Homo sapiens: one gene and its partner. The protein of the gene in region 1 purifies or fractionates together with the protein of each later gene. This does not show direct contact. Each region holds a gene or a part of one and is shown on either strand. Other genes may lie near its edges.

What was found.
Region 2: the proteins of KLHL36 (region 1) and TPP2 purify together in Homo sapiens (affinity purification with mass spectrometry; 2 studies listed by BioGRID and IntAct, with this or other methods). This does not show direct contact.

Annotation. Positions count from the first base shown.
Region 1 is NC_000016.10:84,665,511-84,668,186, forward strand, and holds the end of KLHL36 (kelch-like protein 36), read left to right. Parts: 3' UTR 1-2,176; downstream 2,177-2,676.
Region 2 is NC_000013.11:102,640,513-102,650,974, reverse strand, and holds part of TPP2 (tripeptidyl-peptidase 2), read right to left. Parts: intron 7,754-10,462; coding exon 7,599-7,753; intron 6,419-7,598; coding exon 6,302-6,418; intron 6,067-6,301; coding exon 5,966-6,066; intron 4,682-5,965; coding exon 4,585-4,681; intron 3,769-4,584; coding exon 3,631-3,768; intron 2,069-3,630; coding exon 1,824-2,068; intron 1,568-1,823; coding exon 1,489-1,567; intron 1-1,488. UniProt on the Homo sapiens protein: Cytosolic tripeptidyl-peptidase that releases N-terminal tripeptides from polypeptides and is a component of the proteolytic cascade acting downstream of the 26S proteasome in the ubiquitin-proteasome pathway.

The sequences.
Region 1 (2,676 bases):
TGGTTAGCACGCAATTGGTATTTTTATTGTTCTGCCATTTTATTGAGGCTATCAAGTGGGACTTCAGACCTGGCTCTGAGCAGGACCACACGTGTGTATTTATATTGAGTGCCCTCACTCATGATAAGGTGACTTCATGGAGACCCAGAAACTCACCCTAAGGGGTGTTCACCTTTGAGGTGGGCATCCAGATGCTGAGGGGAAGTGGGGTCCATCCTCTGAGGTCCAGGGGCCTACTTTGTGAGCTCAGTTGTGTTCACCTGTGGTTCAGTGTACCTCGGCCCCTAAGCCAAGTGATCGTTCAGTGACTTGCAGCAATGTGGGAAGTGAGGGGACCCCTGCCACACCCCCCACCACCCCCTGTAGAGTCACTGACCTTCATCCTTCACCCTGGTCCTCCATGGTGCAGCAGCATCTCATGGGCCTTGTGGCTGTCAGAGCCCGTGGTTGGAACCCCGTCCACTGGTCCCAAACCTGGAGGGGCAGCTGCAGATGAGGTTTAGACCTCCTGGTGTCTCCGTGGATTCTGAGTGCCCAGGAGGGGAGGGGAGGGGGTGGCATCCTGGCCTCTAGGATAAATGCCTGGAGTATAGGGCAGCGCCACGGGCACTTGGAGACCCTGTCCTGCGCATCTGCCAAGCCTGGCAGTTTTTAGAGTTTTTTGAAATGTTTTGATACTTTTTGATACAATTTGCTAATAACTGTTTTGTAGAATGCCTGCCGGGGTTTTCCACCTCATCCCTTTCCTCCGGCCCCTTGATTTGTGCTGGACAACAAATGGCAGCACCAGGACCTCGCCTCATGTGGCTTTGTCTTGGATCTTGCCCTTCTCCATCGCTGATGTGATACAGCTCTAGAATTTCGTGAAGTTGCATGCAAAGTTGCATGCAGCCCGTGGGTATGACTGTCTCAGGCCCCCAGCTCATTTGCCAAGAGGAAACCTTAACCCCCCTGAGAGGGTCTGCGTTTCTTCTAGAGCTCCTACCTCAGTGGTGTGCACAGAGTTGGAGACACCTGAGGGCTGGTCCACGTCTCACCTTTGCCATACGGGTCATTTCTTGATCAAATATATGACTGGGGTCCTGGTTTACTCCCGCCCACCCTTTCTTTTAAAGTATTCTTAACATGAAATCCACAAAAGCGGAAACAATGAACCATTCTTGCACTTTACAGAATCATTGTCCTTAGCTTTAGAGGTTGTTAATTTCTTGTTTTTAACATGAACAGAATGTGTGGTTCTGAAGGTGTGTGGGGGTCTCAAGAAATTGTCCTTTGGGGCCGGGCGCAGTGGCTCACGCCTGTACTCCCAGCACTCTGGGAGGCCAAGGGGGACGGATCACCTGAGGTCAAGAGTTTGAGACCACCCTGACCAACATGGTGAAACCCCGTCTCTACTAAAATACAAAAATTAGGCAGTCGTGGTCGCCTGTAATCTCAGCTCTTCCGGAGGCTGAGGCAGGAGAATCGCTTGAACCCAGGAGGCAGAGGTTGCAGTGAGCCGAGGTTGCGCCACTGCACTCCAGCCTGGGTGACCGAGTAAGACTGTCTCAAAAAAAAAAAAAAAAAAGAAAAGAAATTGTCCTTTGGTTGCCTTAGTTACCAGAGTTGAATGAATGTACACATTTCGGTAGTGGGGGGGCAGAGCGGATAACCCCTTCCTTGTCTGTTTCCTTTGAGAAAGGACACTCCACCTTTTCAAAGGTACTTAAAGCCATCTTTACAGATTGCTTGTAATGTAAGGAAAGAGTCATGTCCTTTGGATTGATTGAGGTTAAATCATCAACCACTAGCCCCCTTTCAAAATCAGCGAGATATTTGATGATTAAGTGATTCATTGGGTATGTTCTGGCTACTGATGTTACTGAAATCTGCAATCGTGTATGTTTTTTAATTTGTTGCTTTTGTATTTGTAATTTTATGACATTTCGAAGTTTCTGTGTCTTAACTCTTTTTAATTAATTTTCTGCACGTTGCTTTTTTCTCTTTGTTTTTAATTCCATACAGAGTATTCAATTCTTGAAACACATTAAAATAATTTGCTTGCTAGGGTATGGTTTATTTTATAATTACATTCCTAGTCTTGTGTGGTTATTGTAATGATGTCTGGTCCTAATTTCTCTGCCCGTATGAAAAAGAACCCCTTGCCTGTTGATCCTAAATATAATTTGGAAATTAACCAGACTTCCTTTTGGTGTTGTGGGGAGGCTGGGACATTTCAATTCTGCTTTCATTGTGTTTCTAATTACTGTATTTTGCCAGGAATTTCATTCAGTTCCTTGATTGCAGGGCTAAGTCCCCGTGACCTGAAATGAAACTATTTGCTTAAATGTGTGTCAACTGGGGTAATTTGATTAGAAAAGAAACACAGAAACCAAGGGAAACAGCTTATGACAAGCAGTGTGCTATCTTTATCAGAAAAAATGCAATCACAATACTCTAAGAACCAGCTCTGTTTTCCTTCGGGCGCTCCCCTGCCTTGCTGGGGTTTTGCAAGGCCACCAGCAGAGAAGCCCAGGCACGGTTGTGCACCCTTTCCTTGTCCCTTCGGCAGGTCAGCATCGGGAGGGTTGGGGAGGGGTGTCTGCGCAGCCATCATACCTGATAAGGTGGTTAGAATTTGCCTCTGAGCCAGTGAGCCCCAAACGGGACCCGCTGCCCGGTGCCGACTTCCTCACC
Region 2 (10,462 bases), on another chromosome or scaffold:
TCAAAGTGAAGTGAAAGTTACCTTCCCAACTACCAAAAAACAAGAAAACGCTAAACCACTGAGAAAAGATTACATAAACAATGTGATGGAAGTTATAATGAACTCAACAGCTTTAAGTTACTGCTTTCTCCCAGGAAGGTCTCCCTTGATAAATAGCTACCATAGTTAACACCACATATTTATAATTTAATTTCACAATTGTCTCCTAAAACAATGTAACTGGGAAGTAGTAACTATTTCTGAATTGCTAAAAGCCCACTTTTACTAATAATGCTTTTCTGTTATACTCTTCACAAGTAAGCAGACTCTTCAAAGTGTCATCTGTCATCTGAACGAAAATTCACAGCTGACGCCCAATAGCTGGAGCAGCTATGCTTCCTGTGAAATGAAATCTACAAAAAAAACTACCAGGGTTTCTTAAATCAGTGCATGTATTAATTACAAACCATTAACTATTGATTTACTTCAAATTATACTAAAGTACGTATGTATAAACAGTATAAACTGAAATGAGACCCAAGAAATGTCAGGGTAGGCAACTTTCTAAGCACAAGTTTCCCCAATTATGCTTCAATGACAGTAAATAAATGGCTTTTGGTTCAATAGTGGCAAAAAATAAATATAATTCTTAAGATGTATGAGAACTACTCATTTTGATAACAGCATTTATGTAGCAGGCTTACTTAGCTCTGTAAGAAGTAATAGTACAGAGAAATGCAAAACTGTTAAGAATGACAACTTTTACTGGCATTGAGCTAAAATGATTATTATGACAAAAGGTGATAGATCTATATAAACATCATTCTCATAATAAATTTGTAATGAAAACATAGAAGGAAAAAACAAAAACAGGTAGGTACTTATAAAACTGTAACATATATGTCTAAAGTACAACAACCAGAAACATATTTCTAAAAAAAGCATCATTTTGAAATTAAAAGGCAATACCAAAAGAAACATCTCATATTTTCCTACTTAACCATGTGAAATTCCAATGAGATAGGTCTGTAGAAGTGTGAAGAAACATGTTTTAGGGTAATTGTTCTGACTACTTTTTAAAAGCACCCCAAGATAATCTGATTTATTCCTATGTCCATAATCTTATATGGACAACCAATCTTATTGGTTAAATTTCTATAACATGTTCTAATCTTAAATATCACATGTATTTAAGCCAAGTTTGATTTGTATTTACATGTTTCACAGGAAGTTCAAGTGTATTAGCCGTAGGAGGTAAGACAGGTTCAGGGCCTGAGTACTGTAGGCTTGTGAAAAAGAAGCCTAAATATTTCAAAAGTAGCATACATTTTAAAAGACAACTAAATATTAACTGACTTTCACTAGTAACCTGGGAAAAAAGGATTAAATTTTTTTCCCCAAGAGTATATCTTCTCTTTTATCCATTCTGAAATGTGGAATTAATTCTTATCTTTAAAGAAATGAAATTTTTTAATAGGTAATTTCAGTGTTTAAAAAACTAATACTTACAGCTTTCTTTCCTAGTTCAGTCTTTGACAATGTTAAGGATCCTGCAAGATAGCATCCAGGTCCTGCCCCTTTAGGTATTCTAAACAAGAGAATTCAAAGAGAAAAAAAGCAACAAAAGAGAAAGTTTCACAAAGACAAGTAAGGGGAAAAACATGAAAACAATTCCACACTGAATTCATTCCCATAGCTAAGACTTCAAAAATCAAAGGAAGAAATACTTCAGCCAAAAAAAAAATGACTACATCCTCTAAATTTAGCCTAGATGTCATAAACTGACATTAAAAGGACTACAGTGTATACGATGGGCAGTAAGTATAAGCAATGTTATCACTTACTTATCATCAGGTAAGGAAGTAACAAAGAATGGCTGGTTATATTTGGGTGGTAATGTCAAATTGCTTGATTTCTTCTTCCCTAGAAGTGCAAAACTATGATTTTCATGAATATCTAAGCTCAAGGTATTAGACAATCTATGAGAAACAATAAATGGAAGGTCTTTAAGGCGTTCCAAATCACTGATTTGCTCATGGCGAATCTGTAGTCGAATTGTATAATCTCCTTTCTCCAGTTTCAAAGAATACTGAAAAAGAAAAACAACATTTGGGAAAAGTTAAGTTTAACCAAGTCAACGGAAATCACTGAAAGAGGATAAAGTGAAAGTTACCATTCACAGACTTGTTCATAATATGTGAGGTACAGTGCAAGGAACTAACTATCCAGACGTTCATATAACACATAAAGTCCCTAGTACGCTGGTGAGCAGACAGGATCAGGGACATCAAGTGACTTGCCTAACATCACACAGAGTAAAGTATAAGAGAGCTGAAGTCAGGTCTGACTTCAAAGCCCTCATTCTTTCCAGAACGACAGAATACTCCCACACTTTTAGCAAAACTCAGTGTCTGCTTGAGAATGACAAAAGCAGTGATTTTCTAGTTCATGGGTCCCTCAGAGACATATAAGAAACACTACCAAAAAAATGAGCAAAATTGAGGCACCATAGAATATCTAGGACAAATACACACACACACACACACACACACACACACACACACACGTGTAACTTATGACTACTGGTAATCCTTATTTCCTTTTAGAGAGGGGGACTCACTATGTTGCCCAGGCTGAAGTGCAGTGGCTGTTAACTGGTGCAATCATAGTGCACCATAGCCTAGAGCTCCAGGGCTCAAGCGATCCTCCCACCTCAGCTTCCTGAGTAGACGGGATCACAGGCATGTGCCACCATGCCCAGCTGATCTTCAAATTACAACCAAAATGTCACTCCTTTATTACAGACAGGAAAAAAACAGGAAACCAATAGAGATCAAGGGATACAAATCTATTATCCACTTAACAGGTTCAAGAGGAAGAGATGCTGTATCCTGTGTCAGCCACTTTTTCTGAGATTTAAAAAGTAACCAAAATAATAGCACTGCAGTAGGCCAGTCTGTAATGAGATGTGACTGCTACTTGCTTTGAGGAAAATCGATACCATTCCTTTAACAACTAATTGAAAAAAATCTCCATAAATTATTTTCATTTGTCAACATAAAATTATACATATTACAGGAAATATCTCATTTCTTTGCAGTAATATCTAAGGGATAAAATGTCTATAAATTATGTGATTTTTCCCTTCAATAAAACAGCACAAAGCATAGTGCCTGGTATGTAGTAAGTGCTCATTACAGAGTTGTCCAACGAGGTAGTAAATTTAAAAGTACAAATGAACTGAAGACATGCGGCCACTGCTGCAGTGCTCTCTTTAGCCCCCTCAGACTTAGGATCATTTCAAGAGGCTCGCATCTCTTTGATGCATGCTTTGATGATTCTACCTTCAGATAGGTAGAATCAGTGTATAGGAAGGAGAAACACCACACACCAAAAGTTATGCTGGCCAGTGTGGGCAAGGTTCACCCTTGTCCTCCTCTAATTCAGCACAACTACATGGTGAAATAGTTGACACCATCTGTTCTTCACCGACTACAACAAACAGGCTCTCACAGTTTGCAAAAGTACTAAACACAAAGCTATAATTTTTGTTTTTTTTAAAGTATGAACATTACCATAACAAGAAACCAGGATTTTGTTAGTTCAGGAAACAGCTTCCGTTAATTCTAAAAATCACCATCAATTTTATACCTGATGTGGATAGGCATCGCCTGAACCCATCTGTCTTTTGTTCTGGTCAAAAATAATCCACAGTTGGCTGTCAAATTCAGATTCATATAATAGTTCACAAAGTAGTGGGCAGCTTGGAGTTACTTCCCCACTCTTGGGCTATTAAAAAACAAAAAAGATTACTTGGCATGATTTGCATATAATTTCTGATACAAATTTTTAATATTGTTATTGACATGAGACTTTTTCATTTAAAAAACATTAAAAATACTTGTGGTAAAAAATTTTGAAAATATAGAACACACAGTATTTTAGCACTTATAAAAGTCACTGCTCTCTTACAAACTTTTAAAAATACACACCTGGCTATGTGTATTCATTAATAAAGCAACATATACATACTTCAGGACCTCTAATTACTTTATAAAACTGAAATGTGAAAATTCACTGAAACCAATCCATTTCCCTAACATTATAACCAAACTGATGTGTGTTTCAGTAACAGTTTTATTGAAATCTCATTGATCTTACAACAATTCTTTGGTCCAGCATTTACACTGGCCTCCATTACTTTTGCCACCCATCCCACCTGGGAGCTACTCTGACCTTTCCCTGTTCCAGTGCCTTCTTCGCAGAAAGCAATCAGGCCCAGCACCATCACCAGAAGGCAGATGGTATTTCTGAGCCATCTAATCACCCCTGGGTCAGATGGCACCAATGGACAGTGATCAGTGATTTTATAAACTAAGGCTTAAGGCTAGGTCACCACTCAATTACATTTTGTGACTTTACAACTGAATGGTATTTAATTACAAATTATAATTTCCTAAAGAGTAATTCCAAATTAACTGTTAATCACTTGATTCTGTTTTTTATATATACCATATACACTGTCCTTCCATTTTTGATTCTATGAATCATAAATAAAACACAAAAGTTCATCCTAAGGGTACACTTTACTAGGCAAACACTTACTTGATGAAAGTTATATGTCAGGACCATCTCATAAAGTTGACGGTTATTTGGCAAAACATCTCTTGATCCTAAAGGTTTTGTTTTTGCACTCACTGGGCTGTAATGAGGAAACTACATAACTGGTTTGATTCAAGAGTTCATTGAATGAGACAAATAAAACCATATGCAACAAAATCTGTAACATATTGCAAAAAGTGCAGATGAACCTTCCTGAGAGCTATCCTTTTCAGTATACTCTACAATATTTTAATCACTAACTTACATAATTATTTGATTGAATCATATCAATACATACAGTTTAGATTTTGCAATAAATATGACAAAGGCAATCTTTTCATGGCAAAAACATTTTCAAATGTGAACAAACAGCTCTCAATACAACCAAATCCTAACACTAGGGTGACAACTAAAAGTGTTGCAAGACAGGTTCTGATTTGTACCCCTTGTGCAAACTGTTGACAGTACTGTGTTGTGTGCAGCACAGACCTCCCCAGACCCCTGCTGCTCACCAGATGGCAGGGGCCACACTCAGCCCTCCTCCTGGCCGAGGGAATGTTATTTCATATTTTTAGTAGTCCTCTGAAGGAAGTTGCTAATGTACAGATTTTATAAAGGAGAAAACTGACACTGAAGAGTAAGTTTTAAATATAGTTTAAAATGTCAGTGAAACATAATCTACTCTAAATTTAGCTCCAATTTTTTAGATTTAGGAAGAAAACATCAGGATGATATAAGTTGGATATATCTTCAAAAGCTGGATGTTTTAATTTTTATTGATAATTCTAGGAAGCAGTATATCTTTAGACATCACCGTGTCACTGACTATTGTCCCTAATTGGTTATTTTAATACACTTAAGACTAGGCTTCATGCCGATGAGTTAAGGTCAGATTAAACAAAAGAAACCAGGTATCTTTATAACACAGTGAGTATGTGAACACAGGTCAAGGTGCCCTGCTTTTGTAAGGGGAGCTGCTGAGGCACAAACAGCAGGCTACAGTACTTAAGTTTCTACCATTTAATAAACAGTTTCTAATGGTATTGCAGTTTCTAAAAATGACTGCATTAGGATTCACAAAATAATATCAGAGAGAATGTTAACTTGCTATTTTACAGCAAGAAATAAAAAGGTTAATGTCCACTGATCCTAACTAGTCATGACTGGGATCGGCTATCCACCATCCTTGACTTTGCTGGTCAGGTGGGACAGTGAAGCTAGAAGCTGATACTGGGGCTGCCTTGCAGAGATCTGCTGGCAAGGATAAAATTCTCACCTCTAGCATGCAGGTGGATTAAAAAAAAAAAAGGCCCTTTTTTAAGAGTGTAAGAGATCCCCCCAATCTATATTCAATATCTGTAGTTCCTAAAACATTGAATGATACCGCAGTGTTTGGACCCAGTTCTTCAAAGTTATGCAGGGAGCCAGATCTTCGTATTTCAAGGAGGACTGAACATCAAAGCGGTTGATTCCTTCCGATGCATGCTACAAAGGATTTCTCAAATTACTTTCTCAAACTTTACTAAAAATAAGCAATATTTTGTACCTAAAATAAATGTGTCCAATATAAAGTTTATAAGTACCCACACACAAAGCCTACTGCTATCTTCAGAACCACAGGTAATTTCCCCTCATTAAAGTTTAAATCTAACCAATGAAGTTACTCTCCAGTAACACAAGTAACTGACATTAAAAATCATGAAAATGTTGTGGAACTTACAATGTTTAACTGAGGAGCAGTACACACTATCCCATGGAAAGAAATGGTATAATCAATGTTGACATCACTGAGACTTGCCCACCAACGAGCAATGCAAAATTCAATTGCTTTTCCACCCTGCAAATAAAAGTAAATAAAATATATCTCTTTTCTTATTTTTCTCAAATTACAGAATATAAATACTAGCTGTTTCAGAGCAATTCTGTTTTCAAACTTTTCCTGTTTGTAGCAAGAAAACTCAAAAATTTTAACAGCTATGCTAAGTAAGAGTTAGACAAATCATTTGCAGAGATATGGTGTATTTAAATATACATAGTTATTTACTCATAACCCTATGCTTCTTGTCATAAAAGATCCTAGGCAGCTTCTGAAAGCACATATAATAAAGCAAATGTGATTTTATTATTTCGAAGTGAAATAAAAAATTAGGACCAAAAGAAAAATAATCAAGTATAACGACACAATAAAGATACTTCAACTTTGTAAGGCATACTCAATAGGCACAATTGAGTTTGGGCTCACAGCTACCTGGCAACCAAAACAAAATGACATTATGGTCATTTACATCTTTCTCCCTATTAAAAAATAAAGATAAGGAAAAGGAAAAAAAAACACCTGCTCTTAGCACTGAGTTTTAAAGTAAGTTTTCTAGTAATCAGTGATTTAAAAGTTTAAAAAGATGAAGCAACACTGATCCATGGAAGAACACAAATGAAAGTAACCAGAAACCAAGAGATACTGGGAAAATCCCAGAACCAACTGAAAACACAAAGGAGCGCATTGAAGGAAGAACATCAGTACTTTCACCTTCTATGGAAGAAAGACTAGTCATCATTTCCAACACCACAGATAAGAATGCAGTCTGCCATCATCTGAGATAACTTAGACATGAAGCAGTAGCAGTTTTCCTATAATGCAAATTAGCCTCATAGCTTAACAACACAGCATTAGTAAAATAAGTTAAGTGACAAGCAAACAGGTCTTAAAGAAATTAATCTATAGTACAACAAAGAATAATCTAAATCAGGGTCCTAACTACAAGGCACGAGAATCTACCAGACTAGTATGTTTCTTTGACTATGCTATTCAAGAATTACAGCCATAATTACCTCCAACTTGATTTCAAGTACCCTGATTAGATTTTCTATTTTTCTACTTCATTTTTTTGGCATTAAAAAAATATATAATCCCAACATGCTAAATACAAACTATAAAATCAAATGCAAATACTTAGTCTTAGCCCATACCAAAAAGGCAAATAAATTGTGTTAGGATTATAAACTATAATTAAACTTACTAGGACAGGAAAAGCTTCAGTCAGTGTTCCTTTCTCTGGAAGAGAACAAAACTTATAGAATTCATGGCTTCGATATGCTCTTTGCTTCACAAGCTGGACTGCATGTAGAACAAACTTTGCTGACACCTCAGAAGAACACGAACACACTGTCACTTCTAAAATAAGAAAGAAAGAAGCAAAGCTTTAAACTTATAAGACCTAAAATTGACATAAAGTGGCTTTAATAATGCCCACTTAGGGATAATTCCCATGTAGGGACATAATAGGGATCAAAAATAAAATGTACACTCAAATCTGCATATTTCCATAAAAACAAAGAATCAACAAAATATTAATAAAGGTAGAAGACTAGAAGATTTTCTATGGGAACGAAAGAAACTGGTATTAAAATGAACCACCACCATGAGGCTGCAAACACCTGGAAACAGCAAGCTGTCCATAGATGCATACACAATTACATTAATCGGGTACCTTTTAAAATCCCTCCTTGTTTTAGCTGAAAACCAGTCAATTCCAGATAAAGTAAGGAAGGTTATATTTTTGGAAACCTCTATTTGTTATCATGCCTCAATTCCTCATTGATAACTTTTCCTAATCTCTCTTCTTGGTCTACTTGTGTACTGTGTGCGTCTACAAAGCCTGGCACGACTACTTATGCTTAACTTTACTCTGAGCCAGCGCTGGAGGTAAGCCAAGATCACCGCAATGCCAGATTGGCAGCTTTTCTAAAGAACACCCAAGCTAATTCAAGGGAACTGAAGCAAGGCGCAATGCCGTGGCTCATAAAACCAGGTGTGCAGAGAGCTCTCAGAACCTAGTCAGTTGCTAAGAATACAAAATCTAGTGTTATGACAATATTTCTAATTATTTGAAATAAAACTAAGACTGTTAAATTCTCTTAACTACTTGCATTCTAGATCATTTGATAATTTTTATTTAAAAAAACAAATTATTTTCAATACCAACCTAAACCAATCATAAATCAGTGCCATTTATCACTAAACAAGTACCCAATTCAGTATTAATTAACCATAGATTTGTATTCTTTAATTTACCAGTGCACATTTTACCAGAGCCTGGAGCTCTACAAGTCCCAGGGGCCCTATGAGAATGGGACCCCAGGAATGCTGAACACAGCAACTCTGACTCCACCCTCTAGAAGTACTGTCAAGTGTGAGCGTAATCCCAACGAAGACAAGCTATGTACCAAGTACTATAAAATCCCTAATCCTTACAACAGACTAACGACTATATTTACAGTTGAAACAGAAGTCCAGAAAATTTAGAAACCTGCCCCCAGGTAACCATTAGCGTATGGCAGAGTGTGGATCCAAACCCAGACTTCTCAATTTCCAAAGCCCGTGGCCTTGCCGCTACTCTGTGCTGCCTCCCTCTAATCCAGTTCTCTTAACTGCAATATCTTGGACTAGATGCTCTCAAGGCCTCTGGAAGCAGGGTCCTTGTCTAAGTAGCTCACCACCTTAGCCCACTGAAAAGGGCCTGGCACAGATGGTACAGAAAAATATGCTTAATGAATGAGTGTAGTACAACCCGATTATCCTCAGAAGCCTCTCACTGCTGCAATAGCTCCATTATAAACCAGTGTGCAAATTAACAGGCTATATTGGGTGCTGTTCAATTCACTGCTTTAGCTCTCAGCTTTTGCTATTATTTTGCCTTTACCTAATTACAAAAAACAAGAAAAGTCTGGTATTTCCTGTGATACCAGGTGACAAACAGATGGACAGCATACAGATAGATGACCAGAAAATGGTATGGGGAACCAAATACAACCAGTTATTCCCAAACCAAGTCATACATGTGTGATTTCAATATTTCATTTTCAATAAAGTCTCAGATGTAAATATATCTGTACTTTCATACAAGTACAAAAAACACACTCCTAAGTAAAATACAAGCCATTTTTACTAATGACACCTATCTACCTTATAGGGTTCTGACGGGACTAGACAAGATAATCTCTGTAAAGTGCTTAGCAGAGGGGCCAAATCCAAGAAGTATCAACAATGCTGGCTACTAATTTAAATTGGGTGACACTTTCTTGACTGCCCGTATTTGCTTCCTTCTATCAATGGGAGTGAGCTCTGACAACTGACATACCCTTCTATACTGACTGCTAAATTGTAAATTTAGGACACACAACTTGTGAAGGAAAATATGGTACACCCACAGCTCTTGTAAAAAAGAATGACATGAGCACTCTCACAGGACTATAACATGTTAATTCAAGAGCTTTGTGTTAGGCAATCATTTACTCTCAAAATTTCAGAGACACTGAAGTGAAAATCTTCTATAAACAGAGCTTCAAAGATTAAAGCTCTATTTCTAAAATTCTGAGAGTTTAACAGTTTGAGGTTTAAGCAACAGCTGCATTGTTTAAACTGATTTGTAGTATTTTAAAAATTAGGCCGGGCACAGTTGCTCATGCCTGTAATCCCAGCACTTTGGGAGGACGAGGCGAGTGTATCACGAGGTCAAGAGATCGAGACCATCCTAGCCAACATGGTGAAACCTCGTGTCTACTAAAAATACAAAAAATAGCCTGGCGTGGTAGCACACGCCTGCTAGTCCAAGCTACTCGGGAGGCTGAGGAAGGAGAATCGTTTGAACTGGGGAGGTGGAGGTTGCAGTGAGCCGAGATCATGCCACTGCACTCCAGCCTGGCGACAGAGTGAGACTCTGTCTCAAAAAAAAAAAAAAAAAAAAAAAAAAAATTATTACCAGGTAAGGCATTATTCTAAACTAAGCTCAAACCTTAAATATTAAAAACATCTTAAGATGGCTTAATTTCCTGTATGGGCCAATGCAAAATTGTACTAGATCTTAAAAACGTTTTGAACTTT